3 separate regions of the Homo sapiens genome follow, and all the other regions are reported to be linked to region 3. The links are microRNA targets in miRTarBase. Many come from high-throughput screens and were not tested one by one. Region 3 holds a microRNA gene; each other region holds the end of a gene's coding sequence.

Region 1 (3,259 bases), not on the chromosome of region 3:
GCAATTCTCCTGCCTCAGCCTCCTGAGTAGCTGAGATTACTGGCATGTGCCACCACACCTGGCTAATTTTGTATTTTTAGTAGAGACGGGGTCTCTCTATGTTGGTCAGGCTGGTCTTGAACTCCCAATCTCAGGTGATCTGCCCACCTTGGCCTCCCAAAGTGATGGGATTACAGGCGTAAGCCACTGCACCCAGCAAAAGCCACCTATTTAGATGCTCAACTTCCAAGCAACTGAGATGAGATAAAACTGAGAAGCTTATGAGACTACTGAGCAAGAGGAAAAGGTGACACTGAGGAGCTGTATGAGAAAACAGTGATTTCAAACACAAAACAGTATTAGTGTGGCTAAGTTGCAAATAACAGAAAACTCAACTCTAACTCGTTTGACAGATGTTTATTGGCTCACATAGCTGAAAAGTTCTGAGGTAGCTCTGCTTCAGGTAAAGCTTGGTCTAGTGGCTCAAAAGATGTCACCAAGGACCTAGTTTCTCTCTGTTTAGTCACTGTTTTCTTTGGTATTGGCTTTATCCTTAGGCTCCATATGGTAGCACCTGGAAGCTTGAGAATCTCCCCTTTTAACAGAAAAAAAAAGTTGCTATAATTCTAGGTCTCACATTTTCCTATGTGCCACACAGAGGACAGATAATATCTCCTCTGGTAGCTCTCGATGAAGAAAAGCCTCTCTTTTCCAGAAGAGCCAGTATCTCCTCATATCACAATGGCTCTGTGGCCAAGGGGATGGGATAAACTGATTGACACAAGCCAAACAGGGTCCACTCATGAAGATGGTGGTGGTGCCAAACCACATAGCTGAGAAAGGATAGCTTCCCAAAGAATACCCGGGTAACTGTTCCCAGAGAGAAGGGGAAGAGATGATGGAAACCAATAAAAGATGACCACGTCTAAAAATGTTGTTTTATAAAACTCCTGATTTCAAGTAGAATTAGTTAATTCTATAATTCTTTACTTTCCTGTGTAGACGCTACATGTTCCTCGTGTTTGTTTTATCTTTGGTCCTGGACCTAGGGAGGGCATTTCTGGCTCTGATGCCAATACTGGATTATGTGAAAACTTTTCAACTATTGACTGGATGAAGCTATCTAACAAAGCATTAACCACCACCAGAAAGTGACCATTTCTCCCTCCCTTGGCAGTGGCCTCACAGCTTATCAGAATGTAGACTATCATGGTAGTGAGGGATGGACAGACTGGAAGAGGATTTAGGATAGGAAGCAATGAGAGGGCTGGAACTATATAAATTTTTATGAAAAAAAATCTCCAGTTGAGTTTACATATTCCCAATCCCAGAATGATATCTCATAAAACAAAGGCAATGAGGTCTCTTAAGACCTGGATTGGCCAGGCGTGGTAGCTGAGGCCTGTAATCCCAGCACTTTGGGAGGCCGAGACAGGTGGATCACAAGGTCAGGAGATCGAGACCAGCCTGGCTAACATGGTGAAACCCCGTCTCTACTAAAAATAAAAAATATTAGCCAGGCATGGTGGCGGGCACCTGTAGTCCCAGCTACTTGGGAGGCTGAGGCAGAAGAATGGCATGAACCCAGGAGGTGGAGCTTGCAGTGAGCTGAGATAGCACCACTGCACTCCAGCCAGAGCAACAGAGTGAGACTCTGTCTAAAAAAAAAAAAAAAAAAAAAAAGACCTGGATTACCCTCTGCTGTTTCCCTAAATTACTTTGGTGGCCTCAAAAGGAAAGCAACTTCTGAAGAAAAGGTCTTAGAGTTCACAATTTAACTGCAATGTTGCTTCCATCAAATAAGGTTTTCAGTGAGACAGAATTATGAAAAGCAATACTAATAAACACTTGTATACAAAGAGTATCTACAGAGATACACAACCAGTAGCAGTGATTGCCTCTGGGGAGAACTCAAGAGATAGGAATGACAAGGAAATTTACTTTTCACTGAACACCCTTTTCAACTATTTCAATTCTTTTTTATCATGAGCATGTTATATCTAGTCAAAGATTAATGTTTCAGGATTTGAAAAACATAAAAGAAATGTACTGTTGGTCCTCAGAGTCATTTAGCTGGGGTTAAGATTAAAAGACATGAGACTATTAGAAAAATATAAGATGGCACATAATTAAATACTAACTTGGGTGGTACTGATTACAAGTAGAAGAGGAAGAGAGATCTTCTTAGTTGAAGGAGCTAGATCTGAGTGATGAAGGGAAACTAAAAGCACAGGAAAATAAGCAAATAAAAATGGGCAGAGACATAAATATGTACAATTAAGTAAAGAACAGTAAACTCTGCAGTCAGATAGGCCTGGCTCCAATTTCAACTCTATAACTTACTAACTGAGCAACCCTGAATGAGTTTTATAACCTCTTTCAACTCAGATTTCTCATTTGTAAAATGGGGAGAAGAGCACCTACCTTAATAGGATTGTTATGCAAATTAATGTATGTAAAGTGGTTAGCACCTGATACAGAGTAGCTGCCCAACTAAATGATGCCTTGTTAAAACATCATAGAACAGAGGGACCAGTCTTGCTAGAGTACATGGTAAATGTTCAAAAGGGCAAGATAATACTGGCTATTTAAGTTAAGGGTTACAGCAAATTGTGAATGGTCATCTCATTTTGTCTCTAGGGTTCCTGCAGCATAAGAATTATAAACAAGTATCACCATTATGCACTCTCTAATGTTCAAGAAGGTGAGAGATCTGACAGTTATAGGGTTTGTCTCTAGCATGGCGCCTCTGGTGCTTAATTAAGACAGAATTCTGACTGAAGGCCTTCCCACAGTCATTACATTTATAGGGTCTTTCCCCAGTATGGATTCTTTGATGTCGAATAAGATGTGCCTTGCAAAAGAAGCTTTTCCCACAGTCAGTACATTCATGAGGCTTGTCCCCAGTGTGGACCCTCTGGTGCTGAGAAAGATCTGAGTTCCACATGAAGCCCTTCCCACAGTCCTTACATTCGTAAGGCTTCTCCCCAGTGTGCATTCTCTGATGTCGAAGAAGGGCTGGGTTTCGAGTAAAGCTTTTCCCACATTCCTTACATGTGTATGGTTTCTCACCAGTGTGGATCCGTTGATGTTGCGTAAGGCTTGTGTTCTGACTAAAGCCCTTCCCACATTCCTTACATTCAAAGGGTTTCTCTCCAGTATGTATTCTCTGGTGACGAATCAGGTTTGACTTCCAAACAAAGGCCTTAGCACATTCTTGACATTCATAGGGTTTCACCCCACTGTGAATTCTCTGATGTGCAATGCAATGTGATCGAAA
Region 2 (3,259 bases), not on the chromosome of region 3:
GGCTGTGGTGGAAACAAGTAATGGAACCAAAGCCCTGTGTGTAAGTAGTCACTGAAGCTAACCAGGTAGCTGAAATTTATTTCCCCCAAATTTACTGAAAGAATGTGACCTTTGTGCTCTCAAACTGTGGTTCAGGCACTCCAGAATTTTTTTCTGTACCTTCAATTCTCTCAGATTTAAAAAATTATACTAGAGAAGAGGACTTTTGCCTATGAATACAAACAACATTGCAATCTGCATCTGCAAACATTCTTTTCAATAGACGGTTAGGTCATGGATACAAGTAAACACTTGGATATAAGGCAAACATTTAAAAGTGCATTTCAGGTATTAAGTCATGAATGATATGGAAAAGTTGCCACTAAACTTTCCACTGAATAGTGTTTCACAGCACAAAAATAATCTATTTTCCTGATACTTTTTTAGTATGGATACCAAGACAGCATGACATCAGTTGTCTAATTTTTTTCCAATTTGATTTAAAAAACCCACATGTTCAGGCTTAAAAGATAGCATTATGTTTAATGGGTGCTAGGAAACCAGGCCACATGGACCAACAGACCTAAATTTACTCTAACCCTGAATTTTGTTAGCACCCAATAAATGAATTAATTGAAATCTGGATTTCTCTATACGGAGATGAAGAAAGTCTTTTAGTGTAGTTATTTTAAAACAAGTTGCTCCTATTTCCTTATCAGAAACAAGACCATATCAACAACCCAACATTTAAATAATGAACTGAAAATACTTTTAAAAACCATAAAACTCATCTCTATCCCATTCTTAAGTAAAAATCAGTCTTCACTTTCTACTTAGTTATAAGCAATCCCACAGACATTTGAAAATCAGTGGGCAAACTAAAATTGTTGAATAAAGCCAAACTTTTTCAAACCAAGTATTTGTTAAATGTCATATGTATTGTCTACTATAAAGTGATTCAATATTTTACTATAGAGGATAGCATCTATTTTTCAAAAATGTGAGAAATTAAAAAAATAACAAGGCAACAACTTTGGGGTCTGATACATGAAATAAATATACTGCAAGATAGAGTCTATCAACCAGAAATCACCTGTTCTACTTGTTAAATTTCTCTAACACATTCTAAATTTTTTTTTTTTTTTTTTTTGAGATGGAGTTTTGCTCTTGTTGCCCAGGCTGGAGTGCAATGGGGTGATCTTGGCTCACTGCAACCTCCGCTTCCTGGGTTCAAGTGATTCTCCTGCCTCAGCCTCCTGAGTAGCTGGGATTACAGGCATGCACCACCACGCCCAGCTAATTTTGTATTTTTAGTAGAGATGGGGTTTCTCCATGTTGGTCAGGCTGGTCTCAAACTCCTGACTTCAGGTGATCCAGCCACCTCGGCCTCCCAAAGTGCTGGGATTATAGGTGTGAGCCACCGCACATGGCAACACGTTCTACATTTCAAAGTGACATAAGAATAATTTTTAAAAATTCCAACACTCCAAGGCTGGGCGTGGTGGCTCACGCCTGTAATCCCAGCACTTTGGGAGGCCAAGGTGGGTGGATCACGAGGTCAGGAGATCGAGACGATCCTGGCTAACACCGTGAAACCCCAACTCTACTAAAAATACAAAAAATTAGCCAGGAGTAGTGGCACATGACTGTAGTCCCAACTACTTGGGAGGCTGAGGCAGGAGAATCGCTTGAACCTGGGAGGCAGAGGTTGCAGTTAGCTGAGATCGCGCCACTGCACTCCAGCCTGGGCGACAGAATGAGACTCCGTCTCAAAAAAAAAAAAAAAAAAAAAAAATCCAACACTCCAAATACATCCTTTAAGTATGTAGATGTATAATAGCTCAGCTCACAAACAGGTGTGACTAAAGCCTTTGAACTTGTTACTTATAAACATTAAGAATTTGGACCCCATTATCCAAAGATCCATTTACTAGCTCATAATGCAATTTGTGTTAATCAGCTATACAAATCAACCACCTAATAGCAGTCAGATGATTCTAATCTCACACCAACAGAAACAGCAATAAAATTAGAAAGTAATACTTTTTAGTAATTAATCAATAAAATAGCACTGGGATAAAATGAAGAGAATTTCTTGTTTCAGCTTCTTATCAGTAAGCCTGTTCCTCATTTGTAGATAATGAGGATAAAGGTATCACAGCCAAATATGGGAAACTGCTCTTTATTTAGACCTTTGGGACAAAATTAACTTTGGTCACATATTACTTAAAAAAAAATCCAGTTTTACATATTTCTAAATAGACAGAACTAAATGATCAGAGAATTTCTTCTGTAAAAATTGGCCAAATTTTATCAAAAATCTAACATACGATACAATCCAAATTATAAAAAGACTACTTGGGATCATAATATTCCAAATGTATGACAGTTATAACTCCATCTTAACAAGTGTGAAAAGTACTTGCTCTCATGTTGCTTTGGTCCAAAAGAGTAGAGCTAACTCAGTAACAGGAAACTAAGTACCCAATCTTTTGCCAAAATTAATTTAGATTGTGACTGGCAGCAGAAATATCCATAATGAACAGCTCTACTATAACAAAGAATAATTAAAGAATACTTTTCGTGAACATATCACAGTATCAAATACATTTTTATAAGAGAAAAATATGAAGGAAATGATAAAATAGCTATCACAAACAAAAAGAAGCATTTCCCCCATAAGGTGAATTAGAGGGTTGATGATGCTAATATGAAAGGAAGTTGAGTACTGTATTTATTTCTTATTTTATACAACTCTTACTCTTTACAAAAATGGTTATAGTCATGCCCATAAAAGTGTAACCCATGGCATTTGAAAGCAAACACTCTTTGTAATTATTTAAAAGGGCCTTTTTAAAAATTATAATACAAAGGTCTGTGCTCTATAAGCAGTCCTCCACTGTGCATTGTAACAATAAGGCTTACTTTTAATACAAAGACTAAGCGTTTGGGAGTTATGAACCACTGGATTTAACAAACATCATTTTATAATTGCTTTTTGCATCTTTTTTGTTTTTGGGATCCTCCACTTCATCAGGGTGCTCAGCAGCTTGGAGTTCTTCAGCAGATTCTTCTTTCTCTGACTCTGAATCGCTTTCAGAATCATCTGGACTTTCAGGATCAGGTGAATCATCATCGTCATCATCATCATCTCCAGCCACATCACCTTCTCCATCATGGTCTTCTACCTAAAACATCAATCAACAGGCTCTTTTAAAAATAAACATTAGCCCATACAAAATCTGAGAAAGACCGTAAGTTCTGTCGGTCTTAGAAACAC
Region 3 (3,259 bases):
TTTGGAGCCGGAGGTGGGTGGATCGCTAGATCCCAGGAATTGGAGACCAGCCTGGACAACATGGCACAGCCCAGTCTCTACAAAAATACAAAGATTAGCCAGTCGTGGTGATGTGCACCTGTAGTCTCAGCTACTCAGGAGGCCTAGGCAGGAGGACGGCTTGAGCCCGGGAGGTGAAGGTTGCAGTGAGCCGAGATTGTACCACCACACTCCAGCCTGGGTGAGAGTGAGACCCTGTCTTAAAAAAAGAAAAAAGTATTAAAATTCTTGATCAACTCATGTAATCACATAAGTGGTGGTTGTGGATGGTAAAAAGTTTTTTTAACAGCTCAACTTATAATTGTTGGGTGAAACAGATGCAGAAATTTGAGAAGTGTTGTGTTATTTCTGTGTCACGTAGCATCACTAAATGATATCCACGCCTCGTCATAAGTATAAGTAGGATCATAATAAATACAAAAACCTGCAGAGGGCACCGACGTTTTCAGCTGGCTTTCATACCCGATCTAGGGGGCTTCTCAAGCAGGGGAGAGCTAACTGAGAGAGCTCGCCAGAGCGGTTCTAGCTCAAGCCAGTGTGCACTGCCTAGGATGGGGCACGCCCCACCCTGTGCTCACAGAATAACACACGCAGCCACCTTCCAGGGAGTTCGGACATGAAAGCGTGACCTAAGTCTGTGGCCCAAGGTGGCCTCCCAGTTGTTAAAATTTGGTATATAACTTAGGGTTCAAGGGCTGTTTTCAAATTGTGGTTTAAAAACACAGTTACGTCAACATAATGAAAATGTGCCTTAAACTTCTGTTGAACCCTCCAAAGAACACTCACCCCCAACTCTTGAGAGCAGTGTTGTTCAGATCTTAGCATGCATCAGATTAAGCATGCTAAATTCTCAAAATTTACTGTGCAGCCACCTGGCTAATTTGTTAAAATGCAGATTCCTGGACCCCACCCAGAGATGCTGATGTAGCAAGTCTGGGGTGGGGCCTAAGAATGTGCATTCCTAACAAGCTCCCATTGATGCTGATGCTGCCGGTAGCAAGATTCACATTCAACGGTTTGGAAACTCTTTGACCAGAGAAGATATCTTTGGGGTTATTCTTACTTTAAATAGGGGCACAGTGGCTTCCTCTAGGTCTCCCACCTCTCATCTGAGACATGAAGAGATTGGATTAGAAACTTTCCTAGAATCCTACAAGCTTGGAAGTGCTTCTCTCTCTGCCTGGTAAGAAGGAACTTCCAGGCTGGGTGTGATGGCTCATGCCTGTGATCTTAGCACTTTGGGAGACTGAGGCAGGAGGATCACTTGAGCCCAGGAGTTAGAGACCAACCTAGGCAACACAGTGAGACCCCATCTCTACAAAAACTAAGAAAAACAATTAGCCTGGTATGGTGGTGGGTATCTGTGGTCCCAGTTACTCAAGAGGCTGAGGCAGGAGGATTGCTTGAGCCCAGGAGGTCAGGGCTGCAGTGAGTTGTGACTGCACCACTGCACTCCTGCCTAGGTGACAGAGCAAGATCCTGCCTCAAAAAAAAAAAAAAAAAAAAAAGACTTTCACAGGTAACTCAACTCAGATTTCTCACATGCATCTGGTCAGATACACAAAGGGGAGCCCTAGATGTAGGTAGAATCAGACCTGCCTTTTTCAGGGAAAAAAATCAGACCTGTGGCATTTCAGGGAAACCACTTACCTCCCTCTCCTCAGTTTCCCCATCTATCACATCAACTCACTAATCTCCTTCCTGCCTCCTCACAGGGATGATGGATCTGAAAATGTGTGAGAAATGACACACCACTGTCTGTACACATGTAAGGAGCTGTTGTAATCAATATCTTTGAAATGCTTATTCATGCAAAACAGGATATTTCAGGTCTCCAAATTCTTCAGCGAGAACTTCGAGATGCAGCTGGGTTCTTGAAGTTCAGCTGCAGAGCAGAACTTGCTCTTAGGCCACTGGGGTTCCTCCCCAGGCCACCCTGGGGCTTCCTCCTCCCTTTATGTAGATGTGATGAGTCCCAGATTACCCCACTTCTTGGATCCTGTTTGGGTGCAGAGATTTGGCCTTAATCTTCTCTCTTTCCTGGAGTTGCACTTTGCCTGAAGTGCAAAGAGCCCCATTCATGATTTGATCTCCTGGCTCCTGCATGGCCAGTGGGGGCCCAAGCTGCCACAACGCAGGAAGATGGCTTGATGATGCTGCTGATGCTGGCGGTGATCCCGATGGTGTGAGCTGGAAATGGGGTGCTACGTCATCGTTGTCATCGTCATCATCATCATCCGAGCAGCCACCAGATAGCTTGCACCCACGCTGGGCTGGGCACGAGACTGGCTGTTTGTCATAGTTTGTCTTTCGACCTCATGGCAGCCCTTTAAGGTAAGTATCATCATCCCCATTTTACAGATGAGGAAACCGAAGCTCAGAAAGAATCAGTAACTGGCCCAGGGTCACACTACTACTAAATGTGTACGCATATGAAATGCAGAGTCTTCAGGGCACTGGCTGGCAGTCTGGCAGTCCCACATCCCTCACCCACCATATGTGGCCTCTCAGGGTTTGGCTAGTACATTAGTATCACACCGCAGGAGAAGCCCAGCTTATGCATCACTGTGAGGGAACAGGCAAGGCTGGCCGGTATGGATGGAGATGGGTGTGCTGGGTGGGGACAGAGCACAGAGCAGACCTGGCCATGGTAAATGTTGCACACACCCACTTCCAACCCATCACCCCTTCCCCATCAGAGGCAGGAGGGAGGTAAGAGAATGGACAGGCCTAGGGAGGGGCAGCTGTCCCAGCAGGGGCCTGACAGTCATGTGCTGGTATCTTTAGGGGACTGAGCTTAGGGACAAAGTTGTCTCCCATTCCATCTAGTTTTAAGCTGCTGTCAGGCTGACCTGTCTAAGGTGCATGTCACTCCCTTCCTGGAAAGCCTGCCATGGCTCTCTGTTGCCCATAGAGTAAAAGCCAATCTTACCTGCCTAGCTTCAGGTACCCATATTCTCTGGCTCCCCCATCCTTGTGCTTCATGTGGTACATTTCACCTGGAGCTCTAGACACATGCAGCTTCTTCCCCTTCCCCATAAATGTCCTGGACATTTTGCCTTGTACCTTTACCCATGATGCTCTCTCGGCCTGTGGCACCCTTCTTGTTATTTTGTTTGGCTAAACTGTGCTCATCTTTCAAAGCTGCAGCTGAAGTGCTGGCTCCTCCATGCCGTCTTCCTGGATCTTTGAGATCCTCCAGCCTCTCATTTCCCACACT

Evidence for each region. The annotated mature microRNA hsa-miR-1322 reads GAUGAUGCUGCUGAUGCUG and lies in region 3 at 2,189-2,207, shown strand. An mRNA with a match to its seed (bases 2 to 7 or 8) in the 3' UTR can be bound and repressed. Matches are read on the target gene's strand: a 7mer-m8 pairs with bases 2 to 8, a 7mer-A1 pairs with bases 2 to 7 and ends in A, and an 8mer does both.
Region 1: the mRNA of ZNF662 is a reported target of hsa-miR-1322. Seed matches in the 3' UTR shown: 7mer-m8 at 2,477-2,483.
Region 2: the mRNA of C11orf58 is a reported target of hsa-miR-1322. Seed matches in the 3' UTR shown: 7mer-m8 at 2,679-2,685.

What each region holds. Positions count from the first base shown.
Region 1 is chr3:42,914,764-42,918,022 of GRCh38, reverse strand. It overlaps ZNF662 (zinc finger protein 662), which reads right to left. Exons shown (of 5, transcript NM_207404.4): 5 at 1-3,259. The coding sequence ends at 2,669. Among named protein-coding and RNA genes, the nearest start is that of ZNF662, 10 kb to the right of the region's middle.
Region 2 is chr11:16,754,779-16,758,037 of GRCh38, reverse strand. C11orf58 (chromosome 11 open reading frame 58) reads right to left here. Exons shown (of 5, transcript NM_014267.6): 5 at 1-3,167. The coding sequence ends at 2,934. Among named protein-coding and RNA genes, the nearest start is that of C11orf58, 18 kb to the right of the region's middle.
Region 3 is chr8:11,034,228-11,037,486 of GRCh38, reverse strand. It overlaps MIR598 (microRNA 598), which reads left to right and starts at 2,185; the gene lies at 2,185-2,281. The region is part of intron 1 of XKR6 (XK related 6); the gene reads left to right.